Regions from separate parts of the Homo sapiens genome. Here regions 1, 3, 4 and 5 are each linked to region 2. The links come from fine-mapping of genetic effects on gene expression. A gene starts in region 2. Each other region holds a variant in brackets. All regions are shown on one strand. Distances are from middle to middle.

Region 1 (5,107 bases), 19 kb before region 2:
CACCAAGTTGGCCAGGCTGATCTTGAACTCCTGACCTCAGGTGATCCGCCTGCCTTGGCCTCCCAAAGTACTGGGATTACAGGCGTGAGCCATTGCGTCCAGCCAATATCACTGGCTTTTAAGTTTCACTCACCTCACACACAATCTAACATTTACTACAAACATCCAAGACTTCTATATGATGAACCATAAAATATCAGTTACAAAACATAACCAGCTTTACTTGTTGATAACAGTTGCTCATTTGAAATCATCCCAACCTGTTCTTTAAGTGCGGTGACTGTGGCATCCAAATTCTTTTGTAAGGACAATACTTGCTCTTCGTACTTCTTTGTGAGGCCCATAACAATGCTCTCATGCTGTTCTCTAGCTCGTTGAAGTGATTCAGAATGATGAAGGTCCACCAGCTGCTGCTTCAAGCTTTCCAGAGCCATTTCAGTTGTTCTGGACTTCTTGATCATCTAGTAAATACACACAGGATATCCATGTTTAAAATATACACAGAGTATTTTAGCTCTGTGCTGTCTATAAACTTTTACTTTTACTATAAAATAAAACTCAAGCATGTTTTAATGAGAGTAGAGAAGGGGTCTCCGCTCATCATGGCTCAAGCTCCTTAAAACAACCCTAGCTGGGACCCTCCAGGCCCATAGTTGTTGGAAACAATGTTCCCTGAGAAAATACATTTGGTAGATACCTGAGGGGAGTGAAAGAGGATTTTGCGCAGCATGATGGATGTGGCTATCAGGCACGGAATCTGCTGATGCCGTGATGGCCCCAGTGCTGTTTGCATTGCTCTATGACCAAAGTGTGGGGTAACCCAATTGTTAGGTCACAGAAAAATGACAACTGTTCCTTGAAAGACTGATGAAACCTGCCAATGGTCACTTACTAAAAACAAAGTTTTCAAAGCTGTAACTGCACAGTTGGTATTGTAGGCAAAATCATAGCCCTCCAAAATGACCGTGTCCTAATCCCCAAAACCTGTGAATCAGTTATATTACATGGCAAGGGAAAATTAAGATTGTATGTGGAATTAATATGGCTAATTAGATTGCCTTAAAATAAGGTGAGTAGCCTGGATTATCCAGGTGGGCCCAATGTAACCACAGGGTCCATAAATGAGAAAAACTAAGGCAGAAAAGTCAGAACCAGAGAGACTCAATCAGCCATTCATTGCTGGCTTTGAAGATGGAAATGGGCCACAAGCTAAGGAACACAGGTGGCCTCTAGAAGTTGGAAATAGCAAGAAAATGGATTCTCCCCTAAAGCCTCCGGAAAGCAATGCAGCCTTGTTGACACCCTGATTTTAGCCTAGTGAGATCCATGTCAGACTTCTGACCTCCAGAACTGTGAGATAAATTTGTATTGTTTTAAACCACTGAATTTGTGGTCATCTGTTACAGCAGCAATAGGAAACTAATACACTTGGTGATTCTGCTGCTTACATAAAAAAGATTACAAAGTTATAACCTTTTACTACATAAAGGCAACTTAACTTTTTAATCTAATAACTATTGGTTTTCAAAAAGTTAAAAATAATCTACATTACATACAAAAATTAAAATTTCAAGAGAATTATTCTTCATTCTATTCCAGAGATTGCCTATTTATTCCAATACTGCTTTCATGGCTAAGAGATCCATCCACTGAATGACACAGATCATTTGTGCCAGGCAGGGTTCTAAGCACTAAGGACATAATGACCAAACAGAAAAGGTCTAAGCTCTTACTACTTTCTAGTGGGAAGAGACAATAAATAACAAGTAAACAAATGAGATCATTTCAGATAGTTATAGAGTAATAGAATATGGCATGATGAAGGTGAGTTGGAGGATGGAGCTATGGGCTACCTTACATATAAAGTGAATAGCAAGTCCTCTGAAAAGGTAATTGTTTTTAGCTAAGACCTGAAGGATGAGGAGAAGCCAGACATGAGACAACACTGTTTAAACTCTTTCATTAAACCATCCTCAG[A/G]CTTAGCTACAAGTCTCACTCAAAACCAAGCTCATTATTTCATAGTCACTTTCATTTTTTTTTTCTTCAGACAAGTCTCGCTCTCGTCCCCCAGGCTGGAGTGCAATGGAGCAATCTCAGCTCACTGCAACCTCCGCCTCCTGGGTTCAAGCGATTCTGCTGTCTCAGCCTCCAGAGTAGCTGGGATTACAGGCATCTGCCACCACGCCCAGCTAATTTTTGTACTTTTTAATAGAGACGGGGTTTCACAATGTTGGCCAGGCTGGTCTCAAACTCCTGACCTCAGGTGATTCGACCGCCTCGGCTTCCCAAAGTGCTGGGATTACAGGCGTGAGCCACTGCATCCGGCCATCACTTTCATTTTTAACCCTGCCCCCTGCCAAAAAATGAATCAACCACCACCAGGCTTAGCTACCAATGACTTATGACTATTTCCAAAAATCAAATGGCTATCTCATTAATCAAAGAATGTGAATGTGTCACCACTTTAAACTCAAGTTTAAAAAACAGTTCTCCAAATGGAGAAGCAGCAGGAAAAATAAAAATAAAAGCTTCTCGGGATACCAATTCTGAAGCAAACTATTGCAGTCAGGAAATTTAAGTTCTAATGCTTTGTCAATAACTTCAAAGTTCTTCTAAATTTAGTCCTACCCTACAAAAAGTTTTGTTAAATAACTAAACTTTTAATTTTTTTACCATACATAAGTTAAAATAGGTACCTGTTCTTCATTGACTTTTAATGCTTGTATCTGAGTCTCCAGTGCTTTTATTTGAGCTTCAAGCTGTATCTCTCTTTCTTTTCCATTCTGAAAGAGTTTCTGTGATTCTCGAAGGCTGAGAGTCAAACCATCCTTTTCATCTACGGTATTAAAAATGTTTATATAAATAATGTTCCTGTAGAGGGACCCCAATGTCACAATCCCAATCAGATGTCACGTCTGTATCATATATAAATGTTGTTGAATTAAATTTAATTCAGAAAAATGAACTTTAGTTGATTTAGAGAAAACTAAATAAAGAATTTACTTACTTACTTATTTATTTATTTTGAGACAGCGTCTCACTCCGTCGCCCAGGCTGGAGTACAGTGGTATAATCTTGGCTCACTACAACCTCAGCCTCCCCAGTAGCTGGGATTACAGGCACCTGCCACCACTCCCAGATAATTTTTATATTTTTAGTAGAGATGGGGTTTCACTATATTGGCCAGGCTAGTCTCGAACTCCTAACCTCAAGTGATCCACCCACCTTGGCCTCCCAAAGTGCTGGGATTACAGGCGTGAGCCACCTCACCCAGCCCCAAATAAATAAATTATTAAAAATTAAAAATTAAAAAAAAAAACAAACCTGATACCAAAAAAATTTTTTTAGAGAAGCAGAACTACTTCCTTTAAAACTATTATTGCATCCCTTTTGGGGACAAATCCCTGCTAATCAAAGAAGTTATCTGAGGACTAATTATCCTACACATACTTGCAATGAACTCTTTTTTTTGAAACGGAGTTTCGCTCTGTCGCCAAGCTGGAGGGCAGAGGTGCAATCTCGGCTCACTGCAAGCTCCGCCTCCCAGGTTCACGCCATTCTCCTGCCTCAGCCTCCTGAGTAGCTGGGACTACTGGCGCCACCACACACCCAGCTAATTTTTTGTATTTTTAGTAGAGATGGGGTTTCACCATGTTAGCCAGGATGATCTCGATCTCCTGACCGCGTGACCCGCCCTCCTTGACCTCCCAAAGTGCCGGGATTACAGGAGTGAGCCACCGTGCCCGACCCACTTGGAATGAACTCTTAAATTCACCTAATGTTAAATTCTTCCCACATACTTTGCTATAACAGCTCACAAGTTCTTCTCTCAAAATAAATGTTATGAGCATTACAGAAAGAGACATTTTTACCATCAATTAAATTTGAAATGAGCTAGAGTTCAATCACAAAAGTATTCTGCAAATGAAAGTTCAACGTGGACCAAAACTAGAGAAAGCACAAGGAGTAAGCAATTATAATTTGAATCTGTATTTACTCTGTGTGTTTATCCCAGACATGGCACTTCACAATCACTAACTCTTATTTGGATTAAAACGTTTATGCTAATTTGTAGCCTCAGGAAACGCTGCAGTGCAAACTAAACACAAATCACTCTGAAAGCTGGAATACTTCATCCAGAGTAATGACATAAGGAATCAGACATAAGGAATCAACAACTTTTTAGGACAGAATGCCATCAGTACAGTTAAATAATGTTCAATGATTCTAAAAGCCTAAGTGAGAAAAGGGAAAATATAGGGACTCCAAAATAGAGTGTCTTTTTTTTTTTTTTGAGACAGAGTCTCACTCTGTCACCCAGCCTGAAGTGCAATGGCGCTTTCTCGGCTCACTGCAACCTCCGCCTGCAGGTTCAGGTGATTCTCCTTCTCCTGCTTCAGCCTCCCAAGTAGATGGGATTACAGGTGCCTGCCACTATGCCCCGCTAATTTTTGTATTTTTAGTAGAGACAGGGTTTCACCATGTTGGCCAGGCTGGTTTTGAACTCCTGATCTCAAGTGATCCGCCCACCTCAGCCTCCCAAAGTGCTGGGATTACAGGCGTAAGCCACCATGCCTGGTCTCCAAAACAGCGTGTTCCAAAGAGAAGTAATCCAAGGCCAACACTCAGAAATCCTGGGTTTTGTTTTGCTATGCCTCACTCACTATGAGCCCTCTGACCAAGTGTTTTTACTCTCTAAGCTTCGTATGTAATCTGAGGTTATTGGAAACAAGATATCTAACTCAGTGTACCTCATAAATGACAGCATCCAGCATCTTACCTTTTATTATTACAAGCTGGTGATTCAGATATCGAATTTGACGTTCACTTTCATTTAACTTTTCAATTAAGTTCTCCAGTTGTCTCTCTTTTGCTTTGTTAAGAACCTGAAGTTGAATAATCTGCATATTTTCTGCAGAGTCTGGGAATTAAAGACAATTTATTAGATAAAAACATACCAAAATATAAATTTATAGTCATTTAAAGCAGTGTTTTTCAAACTGTGACTACAACCTTTTAGAGCATCATGAAATCAATTCAGTGAATTGTGACTAGGATTAAAAAAGAGAGAGAGAATATATCAGAGTGCATCATGTAGTAAGAAACA
Region 2 (5,107 bases):
ACTGAAGAAGGTATAAGTTTTCCTTATCAGAACTATAAACTATAAAAGACTTTAAGAAATGATTTCAGACATAAAGGGAAACCTGATCAACTTAATGTGGTTAAAAATATATATAGTAAAAAGGTAATACATATTTTAAATGAGACTTAAAATAAAAGCTAATACCTTAACTTATTAATCACCACTCATTATCACTGCTACCAGAGACTTTAGTATAATATTCAGAACAACAAAAGAGACTTCTTTAAAAAAAAAAAATAGCAAGATAGTAAATCCAAAAGCCATAAAGAAAAATGTGATGGAAACCTAACCACAAAAAATAAAATTTTGTTTAAGGCAAAAGACATCATTAACGAGTCAAATATTATATATGAAAAAATACATCAATAACAAAGTCAAGAAAAATAAGAATAAAAAAAATTTGCAAAGCACCTGACAAAGTCCCAATATAAAATTATTACAAAGAAATGAGAAAAAGACAATCCAATATAAAATTGGGCGACTGACATGACAATTTATTTTAAAAAGTGTAAATCAATTAGTTTGAAAAGATGCTTAAGCTCGTGATGTTTCAAAGAAGTGTCATTTAAACAATATGCCATTTTCAACCACTAGATTGAAAAAACAAACAAACAAAAAAAAAACTTGTTATCACCCAGTGGTGACTATTTTGTATTTTGTATGGCTCATGAGTTGCTGGTGAAAATATCAACTGCTAAACCATCTTGAAAACTATCAATATTAATATATTGAAAATTAACATTTACACTAGTAAAATTATTTTGAATTAATTTGTCAATACTATGCCACTAGTAAAAATACTGAAAATTTTCTATATCTATTGACTCAAGGCTGACCACTTGAGAAATCAAGATGCAGATTAAGTATACAGTATGTTTTGGTTTTCTTCTTCAATAGCAGTCTGGTAGACTTTCTTCCTAGATAACTTTTTCTGAACCCTTAACAAGACTATAAAAAGTATGTCTTGTTGTTACACTCAGATGGATGCTCTGACCCAGCATTCCTTTTGTTGTCCCCGGTTGTTTTCTCTGCCCTCCTTGCAACAAAAGCAATGGGTATTTGGACAAAAGATTACAAAGCAAAAGTAGCATTGTTTTTGCTTCATCTAATAAACTATAAGCACCCTGAAGGCAGAATTAAAATGTATCTGCCTGCTTGCACATGGTGGGTACATAACAAATATTTGTTGACTGAATATGATATAGGCATGTTACCTTATACGAATTCATTACTTCAATAAAATTTTATTGAATACCCACTGTGTTCCAGATCATATCCTAGATGCACCTAAGACATGGTACCAGCCATGAGGAGCTCACTGTCTCTGCTCACCCTCTCTTAGATAGAGCCACTGATATAAACAGTTACAATAACATATTGTAATAAATTCCGTAGTAGATGAAAGTACAAAGCACAAATTACTTTTCCTAAGAAGAAAGGATAGTTTAGAGAAGTTTTACAGAAAAAAAAGAGCTTTTAGATTAGAAATAAATCTTAAAGGACACAATATGGCTATAAGTGGTTCTAAGAATGAGGGCACTCATTCAGACAACCTGGGCTCAATTCTGGCTCTTCTATTTATCAGCAGTGCAATCTTGAGCAAACTGTTTCTGCTTCTACGTTAAAGAAATGGGGGTAAAAATAATACCTACTTCAAAGATTGATTCTGAGGATTCACAAGATACTACATGTAAAGTAATTAGCACTATGTACCAATCAATACATTGTAGTTTTATTACTATTATGACATTATTACTGATGAATAGGAGTCTGCCAGCTACCGAAGAGGTTTAGGGAATAAAGAGGATTCCGCATATCTGAGAAAAGGTGAATGTGCAGCCTATGAGAAATGTCACTTCTAATAATGCAACCTCCTATGGAACAAAAATGCCACCCTCCTTCAAGATGCCCTCCCAAGCCTGTTCCCCCATGGAGCTGGCCACTCCTTTGCACTTTCAGACTGTATTTCTTATGCTTTTCTTATGGCTTCAACTTCAGCTTCTCTTTAGTTGAGTGCATTCACCTGTCTAGGGAGTGCATGTTCATTGTCACGCACTATGAAGGTATAAGGTGATAATAGGCTTAAATCAGACTCAAGTTCATGACTACGATATAGGAAGGGTTATAAACCCCCACAAAAGGGGTTTCTAAGAACTGCACTTGGAGTTGGGAAATTCTACTTACTTGCTGACATAACTCGCCTTCTAGAATGGAAATAGCCAGAGCACATAGCCCGGTTTAGACTTGCAACACCTGGTGGAGACACCTTATTCATTCATTCGACAATTTACCAAGCACTGTTCAAGATTACAAAGTTTAACAGGACACGATGAAGGGAAAGAAAATAGACATATAAACAAATGATCACAACATCTTGTGATCAGTGCTAATAACAGCACTTTGGACAAATTGATTCAAGTTGCCCAGAGGGCGGAGCGAGTAATGCTAATACACAATAAGCATCCACAGGCTGAGCGAATGACCTTGAGGAACTGTTTGGCGTCAGCTACGGCACTACAAACATGACCAAAGCCGCACGGGGCCCAGGATGCCCGGGGCTACTGGCTTCGGGTGCCAGCGTCACTTGTACTCGGTCAACACACGTGCACAGAGCACCTACTGTGAGCCAGGCGTGACGCCAGGGTGACCAAGGCGGGGTCCGCAGAGTAGGGTCTCAGGGCGACCCCAGCAGCCTGGAAACGAGGCGGGCTTCCCATATGTCACTTCTAAGTAGGATATTGGAGGAATGAAGAGGTCTAAATGACACGTTAAGGTAAAAGCTGAGCCCGCAACATGCGGGCAGTCCACCACCGCGGGATTTGGGGAGGGGGCAGGTCAGCCCCCCCAGGAACCCTCAGCCAGCATCCCGAGGACCCCGCAACTCCTCTAACCCCAGGTCCAAGCTCACCCGTGAATCAGAACTTACCGGAGGCCACGGAGGCTGTTACCGCGAGGAAACTCTAGTCCTGGCGGAAGACCAACTTCTAGCAGATCCCCTTACCCTGGCTCTAGTCCACTAGCTCCTTCCTAGTCACAACCGAACTCACGGGGCGGAGGCCCTTAAGGAGCACTCGCATCCTTCAATCGCCGACTAGAAGCTCGCCCGGTGGGCGGAGCCGTGCCAGCTCAGGGCAGAGCGAGGAGGCAGAAGTCTCCGCCTTCCTCAAGCTTGGTTGAGAAGTCCACCTGCAGTTGCAAAGTACGGCTGTTTGAAAGCGGGCGCCAGAGGTGGCGGGAAGCTCCCCCTGTGCGCCCATTGGTGGATTCGAGAGCCAATTACGAGGAAGTCACCCCGGAGTGGGCGGGCTGATCGGTTGCCTAGAGACGCCGAGGCGCTTCACCCGCTACCTTCGGCCAGGGTGCAGCAGTCTTACGGGGACCCCTTGCCCGTTTGGTACCGGAGACTGCAAAGGTGACTCGTGCCTCCTGCGCTTCAGCACACAGAATCCCGCAGATTCCCCACCGAACTCTTGCCTTAGAGGTTTTTTACATTTGCCCTTGTTTTCTAAGGCGCCTGCTTCCCCATTATTTAACAGCCTTAGATATTTTGCTTTGTCTTCTACCTTACTAGGTGCCGCTTTGTTTACATTTTTGCTTCTTTAATTACTGATAAGATGGCACATTTTTCCACGTGTCTATTTACTACTCTAATTTCCTCGGGTGTGAGTGTTCTTGTCACTTAGGTGTATATTATTAACCTGCCCCTAAAGACAGCGCCACCCAGTCCTCAGTAAAGCCCAGTACTGTGTCTATCTTCTCTGGCTGAAAGGGTTCCAGTGAATAATCAAGGAATTGGTGGCGGCAGGTTCACATATCCTTTCAACCCTTTCCCATGTGTACTGGCACGGAGTAAAATGGTTGTTCGAGGCTCTTCATACTGTGGCTGGTTTTCCTTTGCTACTTCACCGTCCGCCCCCATGATGCCTACACTGACCCCTGTAACCCCATAAACTGGTATAGGGTTTGGCAAACAACAGGTAATTTAACCCACTGTAATAGAATGAACGAAATCACAGCCTGAGCTAACAATGGTTCCCAGAGCGCTTTTTTTCTTTCACCTGCTGTGAAAGCTGTTTCTTTCACCTGCATCGCCTCTACCTTCTCCTGCTACTTAGTTTTGAAGACAGACTAGCACCTCCTTTGAAGCCTTTCATGACACACACTCCCTCACTTCGCAAAAATGATCTTTCCTACCTCTGTACACAGTGTATCCTATATATCCTATTATAGTTCTTTTATCTACTGTAAGTTTTTGTGTGTCTTACACTCAGTACAACGTGAATATCTTGAAGTACTCACTTTACTTCTTGGGTGTCTAACATGACCCTGGTAGGCACTCAAAACAATTATGTTAAATGAGTAAATGAATAAATGAACAAATAGATGAAGATTTTGGCAGGGGGGCAGGCAGAAAAAGCAAATAAAAGGCCTTCAAGTAAATGGCATTTGTTGAATCTGAGCCAAGGCATCTTAGTGAGAATTAAATGCACTTTTCACTTTTCACATCCCACTGAAGTCGATTGGCAAACTGTATGTTGCATTCTGTGCTGAGGGTTATGATGGAGTGCTGCAGCAAGAATGCCAGGTGATCCCCATGCACAAACAACTGCTTCTTAGAAGGATGAAAGCATAAAACGTGTCAGGGTAAGCACATGAGGAGGCAGTGTTTATAATCCATTACACAGTGCTTTACAGATTGGTAAATTCTTTCACAAGCATCATCTCATTTGGTTCTCACTACAACACTGTGGGGGGTTAGGACAGGTATTCCTACCCATTTTCCAGTTGAAGAAACTTACATAAAAATAAATTAAATGACTTGTCCAAGGCTACACAGCTAATACAAGGCAGACAGAATCTGAAACCAGGTCCTTTATCTCCAAACCCAGAGCTCATCACTACATACAAAATATTTTAGTGAGACTAGCATATACGTGACAAAGAGGGAAAATAAAGAATAAATCAACCTCCCATCCTGCCATGCCTCTAAAAATGGTTTTTGGTGGAGTTATGGATATATTCAACTAAATTTCTTTGACCACCTATCCTGTTTAAGTCCTGGCCTAGGTGCAGGGTAGGACCCCTA
Region 3 (5,107 bases), 39 kb before region 2:
ATTAACACAGATGCAATACTATCAAGTAATCTACAGACCTTATACAAATGTCTCCAATTTGCCCCAAATGTCTGTTTTCTGGTCCAAGATCAAATCCATGATTCTGAGTGGCATTTAGTTGTCATGTTTCATTAGTCTCCTCCAATCTAGGACAGCTCTTCAGTCTTTCAAACCCATGATGTTTTCTAAGAATACTAACCCGTTATTTTGTGGGATGTTCCTCAATTTGGAGTTTTTAGGTTTATTAAAATCAGGTTATGCATCTTTGGCATGCATGTCAAGAACTGATATGTGCTCTTTGCAGGAGACACATGATATCACTATGTCTCACCACTGGTAATAATCAATTGAAGGTGGGATCTGTCATCTCCATTGTAAACTTACTATTTTTTGTTTTATAATAAATGATAAGTATCTTATAGGATACTTTGAGACAATACAAATATCCTATTTCTCATCATATGTTCTCCTACTAAGATCAAGCATTTATTCTATTTCTGTATGTATTCATTTATGTCAGCATTCACTCACGGACATATATTTTATTCAATACATACAATTTTTAAGACTCATGATAGACTTTGGCGAATTGCCTTCCAGAAATGTCATCCAAATGTATACTGTCAGGTAGTACATGGGTCTGCCCATCTCTCTTTGCCTCCAATGGCAGTGATTATCTTTAAATAATTATCTTTGATGGGAAAAGAATATCTAACAATTGCTTTCATTTGTATTTCTTGTGTCACCACCAAAGTGGAACCTCTTATATACCTTCATTGTTCATTTGTTTTTCCACCTTCCCAGATTTATCTGTTCATTTAACTTTGCATATTTTCCTCTGAGAGTTTTCCTTATCTACTTTTCTTTTTATTCATTGATGGGGGTTACAAAGATTTTAAAAATATATCTACTCCGTTTCACTTGTTGTGTACCTGGACTCTGAGCTCTTTGCCACAACACAGTGGCTCATCCTTGTAATCCGAGCACTTTGGGAGGTGGAGGTGGGCAGATCACTTGAGTCCACAGCTGAAGTAACTTTGAGAAAAATTGGAGTTTAGATGTACACTACCGAGAATTCACTATGGCAATAGAGTAGCTGGACAAAAAGAATACTCAAAGATGAGATAGTTATTCCTTTGATCTATTGATCAACCAGACTACAGAGGAAAATGGGAAGGCTAAAAAACAGTACAATGCATGACCACTATCTACTGCTACACATGATAAAGTGTATCTGTATAGCAAATGCCATTAGCAAGTTTAATACAGAACAAAGAAAGCACCAAGATATCTGAGCTAAGGTTCAGACTCAAAATCAGGTTTCTAGTATCCTAAATCCTAGAGCACTCCCACCAAAATGCTTAAACTAATAAACTCTAATGTCTTAATGCAAATTGAGAAACAAGCTTTCATTCCCATCCTTTTAAAGAAATGTAGGGCAACAATGAAAACAGCTTGATTTAAAGATGTTAAATGTGCAGGGGGCAGGGCGGGGAGGAGTCTCTCTCATTTGCTGTTAATATTAAAATCTATGTTTTAGTCATCAAATGTAGTTACTCAGAAGAGGGAATCAGGCTGGAAAAGATTTTGATAGCAAAAACACTGTTTTTCCAAAATATAAAAATTAACCACAATCAAAATTCCACAATAATTAGCACAGAATATTATACATACTTTAGCAGAACTGTTCTAATGAACACAACTCCTAGTTTAAATAGGAGATAAAACAGTACTAAAGAAGGAAGTAAACAATTATCTCCACCCAGGAGGAAAAGGAGTATACTACCCACATTCCTTTTCCCTCTTCTTTTGCTTTTCTTAGTTATTAGGTGTTTTATATATTATTTTCTATTGGGAGTATAGATGGCTGATGATTTGTGAAATATGGAAGGGTAAAAAAAAGGATCTATAAAGGAGAGCAGCCCTAAAGATCTCTGTGATAGCATGATCTTACAGAAATATCTTTGACTTACTTATTAGTCATG[T/G]GTTTAGTTTCAATTTGTCTGAAATTGGCTCTGTAAATTCAAAAGTGTCACAAAGTGCTCCAGCTTCATTTTCCGAACTGAAGAATACAGAGGTGGATTTCAATGACTGACAAAACCAGATTTTGTGTACTTTCCCATAGTACCACGACCACTATATAATATCTGTACCATCATCACTATATAATTAATGTCCTCATATAGAATGACTTTTGTTGTAAGAACATGGGCCAGGAAAATCTCATAGAAAATACTACAGGATTTCTATGGAGGATTTATTTTAACTAGATTTTAGAGCACTATTGGTAAAAGCCAATCTTAAAGAAATGCAGATTCCTTGTTACAGAGAATACTTCCTTGTATTTATGGTAAAGGAATTTTACCTAATTGGTATCTCATTTACTAGGTGCCAAGAGTAACCAGAAAAAACATACAGATGCTTTTCAACTTACAATGGGTTTATCACCTAATAAAATCATTATAAGTTGAAAATATCATTAAGTCAAAAATGCATTTAATGCATCTAACCTATTAAAACCATAGCTTAGCCTGGCCTACCTTAAATGTGCTCAGAACACTTATAATAGCCAACAGTTATGCAAAGTCATCTAATGCAAAGCTTCATTTATAATAAACTGTTGAATATCTCATGAAATTTATTGAACACTGTACTGAAAGTAAAAAACAGAACTGTTTTACAGGTACTTGAAATATGGTTTCTACTGAATGCACATAACTTTTCCACCACTGTAAAGTCTAAAAATTGTAAGTCAAACCATCCTAAGTCAGGGACTGTCAGTATCCCTTTAAAAATGGCATTTCCTTCTTTAAACTTTATTTCTAAAAATGTCAAATAAACTCCTGAAAGCCAAAGGTTTATTAATTTAAAAACATGTAAAAGGGCTGGATGTGGTTAGTCACACCTGTAATCCAACACCTTGAGAGATTGAGGTGGGAGGATTGCTTGAGCCCAGGAGTTTGAGACCAGCCTGGGCAACATTGTGGGAACCTGTCTCTACAAAAAATTTAAAAATTAGCCAGGCATAGTGGCGTGCGCCTGTGGTCCCAGCTACTCAGGAGGCTGAGGTGGGAGCATCGCTTTAGCCTGGGAGGTTGAGGCTACAGGGAGCCATGTTTCCACCACTGCCCTCCAGCCTGGAAGACAGAGTGACGCCCTGTCTCAAAAAAAAAAAAGTGTAAAAGTTTTCTTTATTGAGCCTTTTAAAAATGGTTTTTTAACTCTATAGGCTTTACATACCTCAACCTCAATGCTTTTTTCATCCTTCTTCACTTGGTGGAGATCTTCAATTTTCTTATGACAGTCTTTGAGGTCATTTTGTAACTGAGACACCAGATGACGCTTCATTGAGTTGCTACCCAGCAAACGCTGTACTTCTGCCTTTAACTTCAGAATGAACTCATCTTTTGAAAGCTCTTCATTTGGGTCTTCTTCTTGTACAATGCTAATGGAGAAATTGTGATTTTTAACATTAAATCAAGTAATAAATCAGACATGGTTATTCCCTAAAAGCACTGACCACAGTGGTGAACATGTTTTGTCACCTATACAATTATATACTAGTATTTCAAAACAATTTTAAATGTTGTCATACACAAGGATTATCACCTTTGCCATGTCTCTATATACAGAAATACGTTTATTCACAGGAAGAGCCTTCTCAAGCTTAGTCCTGCTGCTCACTGTAAGTAGCTTAGAAATGTGAACTTTGACATAATTTACATTTGTGTTATTGGAAAACTGCATGCTGTATATACATGCCCTTTATGACTCTAACAGAAACAACATAAATATTAAGGAAGAAAAGAATACTAAACACTAGCCATCCTAACCAACAATTTCTGTTATTTTTTTCAACTTACTAAAACACAAGTCTGGGTGAATATCTGAGTAACTAGAAAAACACAAAAATAAAACCATGCTAATTTAAACCCAATTTTAGTTTCAATAAATTTAAAGATTGAGAGATTATCTGCTTCCTTGCCGTAATGAATTAACAAGACTAACCTTTATCTTCCTCCTTAAAAAACTAGCAAACCAAATAAAGCAAATAAAATAATAGTTTTCAATCACTAGACAACAGGCAGCACAGGCCAGGGATTCCTGAGAAAAGGAAAGCAAACAAGGTGAGCTCTAAGATTACCCCAGCTTTCTGCCTGGAGAGTGTCCAGGCCATAGCACAGGGAGGTGAAACCCAAACAGAGCCCAGTAATCTCACTGAGTTTCAGAGAAAGAATTCAGAATTTGGGGAGTCCAGAGTGGCTAGAATATGAAGGGAAGAAATACTGGGGAAAAAGAAGCTGCACAGAAAAAGAGCTCTGGAGATCTGTTCTGTATGAGTGGCTAGGGAAAAAAACATAGGAAATGAATAAGGCTGGGAATATGTTATGTTTCAATGAGCCATAATGCAAAGACTTCCTAATTTAAAGGGCATCAAATAATACCTTAGTAGTGGGGCAAAATTAGCCCCAGATTAAAGCCTTTTCTAAACCTGATGTAGTAAAGCCTATAAAGAAAGCCTTGAAAGGATCAAACTGATTCCAAGTAACTTGTGTGTCACAGAAAAAGTACAACAGTATTTTTAAAAATACAGTAATATCTGGCATCCAAAACAAAATTCAAAATGTCTAGCATTCAATCAAAATTTATCAGGCATAGAAAGAAGTAGGAAAAAAATATGAACCATACCAGGAGAAAAACCAATCAATAGAAACTAACCCATCAATGACACAGACAATAGAATTAATATATTTCATATGTTCTAGAAGGTTAAGGAAGATATGAATATGTGGAGGAAAATGGAAGATACAGAAAAGACTCAAATTAAACTTATAGAAAAAATTATAATATCTGAAATGTAAAATATACTGGATGGGGTTAATAGCATATTTAAAACTGCAGAAGAAAAGATCAGTGAACACATAGATATAGAAATAAAACTATATAATTAAAAACAAAGATAAAAAAGACTAAAACAGAAATACACAGAACATATTACATTTTCCAACATGTGTAACTGAACTCCCAGAAGAGGAGAGGGATGGAAAACATATTTGAAAAAATAATGGCCAAATTTTTCCTAATTTGATGAAAATGAAAACCCCAC
Region 4 (5,107 bases), 56 kb before region 2:
GGACATTAAGTCAGACGATTATTACCCATTTGTTCACATCTATGATCTCCTTTTATCCTCAAAGCAACCCTTCAGATGGGTGATTATGGATGCTACAAAGACTGGTGGGAACAAAATCCAATTACCAGCTTCTGCTTCTGTTGCTTGTAAGGCCAAGGGCTGAGCATGGTGTCCAGCAGCAGGTCCAGGGTCTCCTTGGCCAGTGCCCTGGCTGGCAGAATCCTTAGAGAGCTCGGCCATATTTCTCTGAAATAAAGTATCTTCAAAGTTAATGCTTAGTAAAAATCTTTATACAATTTTATATTTAAAATGCTAATATTAAAAATACAAAGAGAAAACACTACCTGAAAAAAATCTTGCCTGAACTATCTATCGCCAATATTTTTCTTAGGGTGTTATATAAGTACTGTCACTGTACTAGGAACTAGCTTCCTATGAAACTTTCCAAATAAGAACACTGTCTGACAGGCGACTGGTGGGCAGCTATGAGACAGACAGAAGATATGGTTTGCACATTATATATGTGAATTTGAGATTTTTCAATGGTTTACGTGATTAAACCACATGAAAGACAATATAAAATCAGAATTGTTCTTGAAAATCTAGAACATTTTTACTACAGCAAGGAACAAGTTAATTAGCAAGTATAATGCTAACCCTCTGCCTCCTATGAATTGAAAATAACAGTTAAAAATCATTTTAAATTTATATAGTACTTCATATGCTTCTAAATACTTTAACATACACAGTAATTTTGTAAGGAAGGCCAGCTGAATGCCAAAGTTAAGGACAGAAACTGAGGCTTAGCTAAATTAAACATCTTGCACAAGACCATTTCTTCACTAATATTTATTGAACGTTTTTATGTTCCAGTCCTTGTCACAGCAATACAGCTACTAAATCAATGGATTTTTCATTTTTGGTTTTTGTTTTGAGATGGAGTCCTCCTCTATCGGCCAGGCTGAAGGGCATTGGCGCGATCTCAGCTCACTGCAACCTCCACCTCCCAGTTCAAGCGATTCTCCTGCCTCAACCCTCGTGATCCGCCTGCTTTGGCCTCCCAAAGTACTGGGATTACAGGTGTGAGCCACCACGCTCAGCCAAATCAATGGATTTTTATGGTAATGTTTTCAGATTTAAGATGACTACTAAATCGGAAAGGAACAGAATAGGTGGTATGGAGAAAGTAGTCTTACTGATTATTTAAAACATACTATATATGCCTGATTCTAGAAGCCTTGATTTTGATTATGAGAAACCACTTAATTGACTGTCAGAAAACCTACTTACAATGTCCAACAGAAGCAGAGGTTAGCAATTATAGAGAAGAGGCAATCAAGAAGCTATGGGTTTGAGGTCAAAAGGAGTAGGAAAAGCTGAACCAAAATGCAGTCAGTGCTTCCAGTTTTTACTCAAAACTGGGGAAGAAAAGTCAAGATAACAGAAAAGGGAGAAAAGCAACAACCTTTTTGTCTCAGTTTTAACTTGACTTTGATGGTAAAAGAGACAACATACATCCTTAAGTTTGCTTGAAAATTTTGTTCCATTTGATATTTGTTTTATCTGTTATGAACTACTGTATTAATATATTTTGATATGGCATTCATTTTCTTGAAAGCTATATTTTTCATTCATTGCATCCTCTCCATTTAAAAAAACTTTTGATTGTCTCAGTTATTTTAATGAGGACTTGTTTTTATATATTAATAAACCATCTTTTGTTTTAATTTCCATGAACAATTTTTAAAACTAGAGAGTTAATAAATTATAAATTATAGTTCCTCACATTTACAGCACCTATGTAACAAATTTAAAATCACTGCTCTATAATCATAGCTTTACCTCAAGGTCCTGAGTGAAGATAGCTCGAAAATGGCAGAAGGTCAAGTATTACTTCTATGACAAATTCCAGATTAGGCATTTCAAAGCCATCCTTTTCTCAGGAATGGAATCTGACCCACCCAACAAAAGCCGTAAACATCTAAATTCTTAGCCAGATTATGTGATTCTGTCTCCATAGACTTATGAGCCTCATTAAGTCACACAGATGATCTTATACTGCTTGCACAATTATAAGCCCTGTAAAAAGACTCCAGGGTTGATTTTATATGTATATATTAATGGTAGGAGAAAGGTGTCATAGTTTCTTGATTTTTATAACAGATTTTATAACTGTTATAAAAATCGAAACATGCTTACAAACGAAAGCATGTAAACATGATTTTCCCATCATTTCTCATCTCCAAATCTGCTATAATTTTTTAATTATATGTTTTCTCCAAGTTATTTTAATTATTTTCTCCAAAAAATCTCAATTAAGTGTGAAGCAGTATTCATGGGAAGTGATCTTGCCCAGTAAATTTTACATTGAAGGCAACTACTCGGTAGCAACATCTTTGTGAGGTCAAGGATAAAAATATCAACTGGGGTGAAGTAGGATGGAGTGAGCTGATCTTTCAGGTCCCTTCTGGCTCTAAAATTCTATACTGTTTCAAATGCAGGACCCAGAAAGGCTAAGCTGTGCCATGCATATCCTACCCAAACCCAAGGAATTAGGCCGGGGATTTGTATTTTATTTTTCCAGTGAGCAACTATGTGATTGCCCAATATAATAATCTAGTTATCATCGAATATGGAACTGAAACTCAAGGTTATTTTTTCTAGTTTATAACTCTCCCAAGTAGGTATTAATACCAAATGCTCAATCCTGGCCTTGAAACTCCTTAATCACAATATTTTGATGGAACTTCACTCTTAAGTCTCAACTCTATTAGACAAACCTTATAATACTGGCTTTTTTTTTTTTCCTGCCTCTAATCCCAAATGTTGAAATTGGCTAATCACCATGCTCAGAATATCATTCTGGATCTTTCATGCATACCTAATTGCTTTGATCATAAGGTAGCAAGA[A/C]TTTGGTTTTACTGAAACTTTCATACAAATTAAAAGCTGGTCTCAGAGAGTACTTATATAACTAAAAGAATATAATTAATTCTATATGCACATATATAGTACATCCAGAAACTGGGCTTCAGAGTTTTATGCGAGTGAGTCGTATTTATTTGCTTGTTTCTATATCAATACCTTTGTACTTGGTTGGCATTTTTTTGCCTAAATGAGACATAAATTTATTGAGGGCAATAAATAGGCTTCCAAACTCTTTACAAGCTTTTAAGAAACTCTTATTATGCATATTTCATGAAGTGGTCAGGCCCAGAAAACAGAATTTTGAAAAAAAAATTTTCAGTTTCTGAAATCTCAGGCCCTTAGAAAGAACAGCATATATTCTTTATTTTATTTTAAGTTCTGGGATACATGTGCTGAACGTGAAGGTTTACTACATAGGTATACATGTGCCATGGTGGTTTGCTGCACCTATCAACCTGTCATCTAGGTTTTAGGCCCCGCATGCATTAGGTATTTGTCCTAAATATTCTTTAGGAAAAAGATATTTAGAGGCTAAAATCTTGTCTTGTATTTGTGACACTATGAAGTAGTAAAGTTTTTTGGCAACGAAACATGCAAACCTTTGGATTTCGCTACAGAAACTTTTTTAAACCACTGACAAAAACATAAGACTTACATCTACTAAAATTTAAAAGGAAAAAAGGAAAAAACACTATATACAACTTCTATAATCATTCTTGGTGTTCAATACCTTCTCTCACTCTCAGGAACATACCTTTTTCCATTCTGGGTCAGCGTTTTCTACAAGCAGAGGAAGTGTATCTTGAAATGCTTTCTGTATGCAGCCCTTTAGTTTTTCAAAATATTGCACAGACATCCATTTTGAAGAACAAGTCGACATGATTTCCAAAAGCTGCTTGTCCTCAGAATCACTGATGTGCTCCTTTTGGGTATCACTTAAAAGAACCCCAAGTACAGTCAGGATGTCTTCCTCATACTGATAGATTTCCAGTTGGATCCGCTTGGCTTCCTGCATAGTCCATTCTCTACGACTCTGGTCTAGACAAGTTTGTAATTCTGTCTCCTTCTGAAGAAGTAGTTCAGTTTTTTGTTTCATAAAGTCTTCTTTAGCTGCCGCAAGCACCTCATTAATTTTATTTCGGTGATCATCTAAAAATTGCCGGTAATCTTGCTCATTTTGTTCTTGGATTCTGTGGATTTCTTCTTGCTTTTCTTTGTTCCATTCACTCCGAGCCTTAGCTAACTCAGCCCTGATGACCACAGGGACTTCTTCGTTCTTTAACTCAAGTTCCTTCTGAAGAGAATGAATCTTCTCTTCCAATTCCTTTCCAGGAAGTATATTTTTCCTCATATTTTCAAGCTCACTCTTCCATTTCTCTTTAGCTTCAGAAACAGCAAATGATATCTAAAGAACATAACAACATGCATTTTGAAAGTCTTTATGATTCTCCTCCTTCGCAAAAAAATTAAGGTAACTATTTTGGTTAACCTCTGAAGCTAGGAAATGTAAAATCAAAATTAAAAGGAAACATGATTTTAGATAAGACATTATTCTAAAAACTATACTTACACTAAAATTGGTCAAAATATATACATAAATATGTTTATATGTATGTATAGACACATAAACACTCACACATATAATTATATAATTAGCCAAAACTAATGTGAGAAAAAATTTCATATTACTTTTCTTAATACAGATACAATCTCAAATTTTATCTGTGCCCCCAACAAATTAAGTATCTTTTACCTAAAGCAAAAGCGGACTCATAAGGATTTTTTACTATTACTTAGGAATATAGCACACACCTGCATAATTACTTGCTGATAAGTGTAACTGTATTTTAATGCACTTTTAGTGGCTAGAACAGTTCATTAAAGGACAATACCAAACAGAAAAAGTCATTTTTCATTAGTCTAATTTGTTTGTATGACAGAATAATAGAACTAGTGGATCACAGAAAAAAACAGGTAGTACATAACTAAAAAGTAATAGCGAAATCAAAAAACCTAAGCTCCAATCCTGACACCAATTTGCAGAGGAAGCCTAGCACAGATGCTTAACAGAACAGAATCTGGAGACAAACTGCTGGAATTAACTTACCAGCTGAAGAACTAAAGGCCCATTCCTCAACTTCTTTGAGCCTCAATTTCCTCATCTATAAAATGGGGATAATTA
Region 5 (5,107 bases), 84 kb before region 2:
AAGTTCCTTCCCTTCTTTCTCATCTATAGAATGAGGATAATAAGACCTAGTTTGAAAAATTGTTGGAAGGATTAAGACAAAAGTGTAGGTATAGGGCTTAATATGATAACTGATCCATTGTCATGTTTAATGAATAATCTTGAAGACCTTTCAGAGTAGATTGCGACACTGGACTACATTTTTAAAAACTTTTCCAGGAAAACTAATTGGTAGCCAATGAAATCATTGACAGCTACAGGGTCACTGTGATAATACATGTATTGAGTTCACCCTGTGCTCTTACACAGATAGGATATTTCAACTTTTATTGAATAGGGTGAAATAGGGTGTTTCAATTTTTATTAACCGTTCCTAGGGAAACAGTTTGTGTAAGAGCACAGGGTCAAGAAAATATAAGAAGCAGAATTTCATCCAGTACATTCTATATACAACATGATTGATAAAATTATGAAATGAAATGAGGAAATATTTCAGACAAGGGCTATGCCTGAACCAAAACCAAAAATAAGTTTTAAAAGTTTTGTTGATTCTACTTAATTTACTCATCAGACAACATTTTTAAGAGCACAAGATTTAACATGTTCTCAAAGTTTCCAAATTATTGCTGACCTTTGTGGAAGAAGCCAATTCATTTATCTTACTTTCGAAAATAACAAAGTTTCTATTTAATGATGTTTTACTATTTTGATTTCTAATTAATTTCCTGGTCTGGTCCTTAAGGGGAAAAGTTGTTACAATTATATCAAGAGATTTAAAAATCGCATATTTACTACTAGAAAATTTCTAAATATCTTTTTTCTTTTAAGATGAACCATTACTCGTTGAATTTTAAAATTACAAAAGGTGGTTCTATAATATTACAGGCTTTCCTGTTGTGTTGGTAAATTTCTAGCTGCAGCATAATCTTCATATAATGTCATATTCTATAAATCCCTGCTAAAGAGCAAGATCTATTGCTCGTCTACATCCTGCTGAGAAAGCAAGTTAAACTGATTTCACATGTGGAGGAGCCTGCTGAACTCATTTTCCTGCTTGGAAGCATGGAGGGGAAGTGGAAGGAGCGGAAAAAGAAAAGGACTTTCCCCTTTAAAATAAATTCCAGCTCACCTGTAAGCCAAACCAAATAAAGACAGTATAGGGATTAAAGCCATGGCCTCTAGCGTCACAAGAAAAAAAAAATACATCTATATTTAAATGTAATGTTGGTTCCTTAGTTGTGAAAAAGTTACCATAGTGATGTAAGACATTAACAACAGAGGAGTCTGGGTGAGAGGTATAGAGACTCTGTATATCTTTGCAACTTTTTGGTAAACCTAAACCTATTCTCAAATGAAAAGTTTACTGCCAGATCAAATTGAAAAGCTTACCAAGCATCTTCCACCAAGAACAATTGGCTATCCACGGACTCTTGTTTATGGTACTGGAAAACATGGCACAAGCTTGCTTGAAAACTCTTTATCGAACAATGACAGGTTTAGACACCCCAGTGCTGATGGTAATTAAAGACAGTGATGGACAGGTTTTTGGTGCGTTAGCAGCTGAGCCATTTAAAGTGAGTGATGGCTTTTATGGTACTGGAGAGACCTTTGTTTTTACATTCTGTCCAGAGTTTGAGGTCTTTAAGTGGACAGGAGATAACATGTTTTTTATCAAAGGAGACATGGATTCACTAGCTTTCGGTGGTGGAGGAGGAGAATTTGCCCTTTGGCTTGATGGAGATCTCTACCATGCAAGAAGCCATTCTTGTAAAACGTTTGGGAATCGTACACTTTCTAAGAAGGAAGATTTCTTTATCCAAGATATTGAAATCTGGGCTTTTGAATAAATACAATGCTCTCTGTCTTAGCAGGAGAATGGCCCAAACCTGACATGGACAAGCATTGTTTGGAAAGTTCAAGAAGCAATACAGTGTAACATGTCACTTGTGCTTTAAAATTGGTCTGTCTCACCATTTATTACAGGTATAATTTTGGAGTTTATTTTTCAAATAATGTTCTTGTCCCAGAGTTCTTTAGGTTAACACTATGGACTGCGTCCATGTACTAGTATAACAGCTTGGGTTTGTTAGAATTTGGGCAACATTTTGATTATAATGACAACTTCATTTTCACATGTTACTCAGTTCCCTAATAGGATGGTGCTCTTTTGTTGAACCTGTATTTTTTTTTTTTAACTATATTGATTCGTTTACTAGAACCATCTAATTGGGGCATTGAGGAAATGAAGACTAGATACTTCTGTATCTGTGAAGTTGGCACAGGTAACATTTGGACATGTTCATCTTATTCTTAGGAAGGAAAAAATCACTTGCCAAAATAATACATACTTCATAGACAAAAAAAAAAAAAAAAAAGACTTGGGTATAACTTTTGGCTTTGCCTGCTGCAAGCTTGTGTTAACCATGAACAAATTACTTATCTTCTCTAAGCCTTGATTTTAGCCAACCATAAAGTGCTTATACAGAGCCTCACTCAAAAAGCTGTTGTGAGGATTAAAGGAGTTAGTGAAGTGCTTGGCACAATGCTCATCATCAAGTTAGCATCTGTAAATTAGTTGTTCTCATGACTGTGCCCACCAAAGGACTGTGCACTTCAGTACTCAAGGGAGAGCATGGTCCCTTCAATCCACCCTGTCTTGATTCTCCAGTACTGTTGATAGCAGAGTCATCTTCACAAACACCCAGGCTCTAAATCCCTTCTCAGTAGGTCCTGGAAGCATGGGTGTGTCATATTCTCAATCTTGTCACCTCTTCATTTCCACCACATCTACCCTGGCTCTGGCCTTGTTCCTTGCCTGACTGTCCTTGGACATTGTCCTCCTGGTTCCTTGGCTGTTTGCTCTGTTCCTCCAAGTCCTCCTATTATATGGCTTCCCTAATCTCTCTAAATCATGCTACCAAAACTTCAACAACTCTCCCTTTTCTATGAACCAAATTTCGAATTCTTTGGCTTTGACATCCAAGACCATCCATGATCATGATCTAGCCTCAATTTACCTATCTCACTATTCTTCATGTACTCTTTTTTTTTTATTATTTAT[T/TA]TTTTTTTTTTTTTAGAGGGAGTTTCGCTTTTTTATCCAGGCTGGAGTGCAATGGCACAATCTCGGCTCACTGCAACCTCTGCCCCCCAGGTTCAAGCAATTCTCCTGCCTCAGCCTCCCGAGTAGCTGGGATTATAGGCGCCCACCACCACACCTGTCTAATTTTTGTATTTTTAGTAGAAACGGGGTTTCACCATGTTGACTAGGCTGGTCTTGAACTCCTGACCTCAGGTGATGGGCCCGCCTCAGTCTCCCAAAGTGCTGGGATTACAGGCGTGAGCCACCGCGCCCGGCCTTCACATACTTTTAAATCTGGTTTACCTGAATCTTTAGGTAATCATATGCCTAAACCTTAATAATAGCAAACACTGAGGCCCAGACAGGCTACAGAAACAGCTAAGACACAGAGCTAATGACAAAGCAGACTTTAGGTCCTTGATGGCATTCTAAGTTTACACTTTGGAAGGACCCAACATCTACCAACATATAACAATGATGGAAAAAGTATATAGAGAAAAAAGACTTTTAAAACACAAAATGTCCCTGAGGACTTGAAAAGTAAGGTACTACCTGTTCTGTATCTAAATGTAGTAAAGGTAGGCCTGGTACGGTGGCTCATGCCTGTAATCCTAGCACTTTGGGAGGCTGAGGTGGGTGGATCACTTGAGGTCAGGAGTTCGAGACCAGCCTGGCCAATATGGTGAAACCCCATCTCTACTAAAAATACAAAAATTAGCCAGGAGTGGTGGTGCGTGTCTGTAGTCCCAGCCACTCAGGAGGCTGAGGCAGGAGAATCGCTTGAACCTGGAGGTGGAGATTGCAGTGAGCCAAGACTGCGTCACTGCACTCCAGCCTGGGCGACACAGTGAGACTCGGCTTAAAAAAAAAAAAAACCAAAAGTAGTAAAGGTGGCCAGGAGTTTCTGCAGAATAATAAGGACTAAAAGCATCCAACTGAGGAAAGGAACAAAGGACAAGCTTGCTGTCTAAAGCAGTAGTCCAGGTAGGGGTTCCTTACCTCAGGGAGGCTGAAAAAGCTACACTCTCCACCTGAGGCCACAAGTTATATTAAAACTATGTATCTAGAGAGCCTAGAGGTTAAAGGCAGAGCTTTGCAGCCAGGAACTGGGCCAAGCTGCCTGCTGGCTCAGTGACTAGCTTTAGAATAGCCCCACTAGATCAGAAATCACCTATGTAAGACCCAGTCTTGGACTGGGTACTATATGGAGCCCATATGGAGGCAACCAAAAGAACTAGACAGTGGTGGGAGAGAACTCAGAAGGAGAAAAAAAATCTTCTTCACTGTTAGACTGCAAGTTAGACTGCAAGCCAAAATTCCACACGCGTGGGGGAAACTAATTCTGTGTAAGGCAAAAACAAACAAACAAAAAGCAACAATTTGGATATGAACTCACTCCCAAGTGACATGATAAATTACTCTAGAAGTAACTTTAAGAATTTCTTAGTCTTTAAAAATATAAATACATAGAATCTATTAGAAAACAAGATTACTAAACAGGTAGAAATTTTACAAAAAGTCTAGGTGTAAAAACACCAACTAGAAATCCCGGAAGTGAAATTTCAAAACTCAATAAATTAAACAAACAAAGACAGAATTAGCAAACTGGAAGATAGTACTTCCAGTGAAAAAAGACCTCCACAAAGTAGCACAGAAAAATAAAAGTATACAAAAGAACAATGAAGAGAAACGAGGATGGGGCTATGTCTAAGAGAAGTTCCAGAAGCAGGAAACAGAAGGAATGGTGGAGTTAGAGTGGCTTCCTTCTAATCTTTACCCAAATGTTACCATCTCAGCGTGACCAACCCTCACTATTCTATTTAAATTTGTAACCACTCCCTCTTTACTCCTCTTTTTACCCTTACCTGCCCTTATTTTCTCCATAGCACTTACCAACTTCTAACATACTACATAAGTTATGTGTATTTACTGTCTCCCCTGACTAGAGTGTGAACCATGAAGGTAGAAACTCATGTTTTGATAAGCATTGTATCACCCTAGAACATTAACAATCAGTTGTTGACACCTCATAAATATTTGTTTAATGAAT

Which allele goes with the higher level. Positions count from the first base shown, and alleles are read on the strand shown. Sizes are in standard deviations (SD) of each study's normalised expression. Not every link is listed here.
As copies of T replace TA in region 5, the expression in monocytes after LPS of the gene that starts at base 3,056 in region 2 goes up (large effect, 0.85 SD a copy in Quach 2016).

Evidence for each region.
Region 1: its variant is fine-mapped to the expression of CEP152 in whole blood (TOPMed, PIP above 0.99).
Region 3: its variant is fine-mapped to the expression of CEP152 in whole blood (TOPMed, PIP 0.98).
Region 4: its variant is fine-mapped to the expression of CEP152 in whole blood (TOPMed, PIP above 0.99).
Region 5: its variant is fine-mapped to the expression of CEP152 in monocytes after LPS (Quach 2016, PIP 0.95).

What each region holds. Positions count from the first base shown.
Region 1 is chr15:48,788,541-48,793,647 of GRCh38, forward strand. It overlaps CEP152 (centrosomal protein 152), which reads right to left. Exons shown (of 27, transcript NM_001194998.2): 7 at 4,781-4,921; 8 at 2,697-2,836; 9 at 261-461. Among named protein-coding and RNA genes, the nearest start is that of CEP152, 20 kb to the right of the region's middle. The variant A/G (reference allele first, on the strand shown) is at 1,978.
Region 2 is chr15:48,808,014-48,813,120 of GRCh38, forward strand. It overlaps CEP152 (centrosomal protein 152), which reads right to left and starts at 3,056. Exons shown (of 27, transcript NM_001194998.2): 1 at 2,948-3,056. It overlaps LOC124903487 (a long non-coding RNA gene), which reads left to right and starts at 2,685. Exons shown (of 2, transcript XR_007064626.1): 1 at 2,685-2,794; 2 at 2,918-3,896. RefSeq lists enhancers at 2,206-2,767, 3,426-3,485 and a silencer at 3,060-3,250.
Region 3 is chr15:48,769,247-48,774,353 of GRCh38, forward strand. It overlaps CEP152 (centrosomal protein 152), which reads right to left. Exons shown (of 27, transcript NM_001194998.2): 13 at 3,241-3,445. Among named protein-coding and RNA genes, the nearest start is that of CEP152, 39 kb to the right of the region's middle. The variant T/G (reference allele first, on the strand shown) is at 1,986.
Region 4 is chr15:48,752,224-48,757,330 of GRCh38, forward strand. It overlaps CEP152 (centrosomal protein 152), which reads right to left. Exons shown (of 27, transcript NM_001194998.2): 20 at 3,680-4,330; 21 at 126-246. Among named protein-coding and RNA genes, the nearest start is that of CEP152, 56 kb to the right of the region's middle. The variant A/C (reference allele first, on the strand shown) is at 2,911.
Region 5 is chr15:48,724,007-48,729,113 of GRCh38, forward strand. It overlaps the pseudogene LOC645405 and a transcript of CEP152 not described here. Among named protein-coding and RNA genes, the nearest start is that of FBN1-DT, 81 kb to the left of the region's middle. The variant T/TA (reference allele first, on the strand shown) is at 3,040.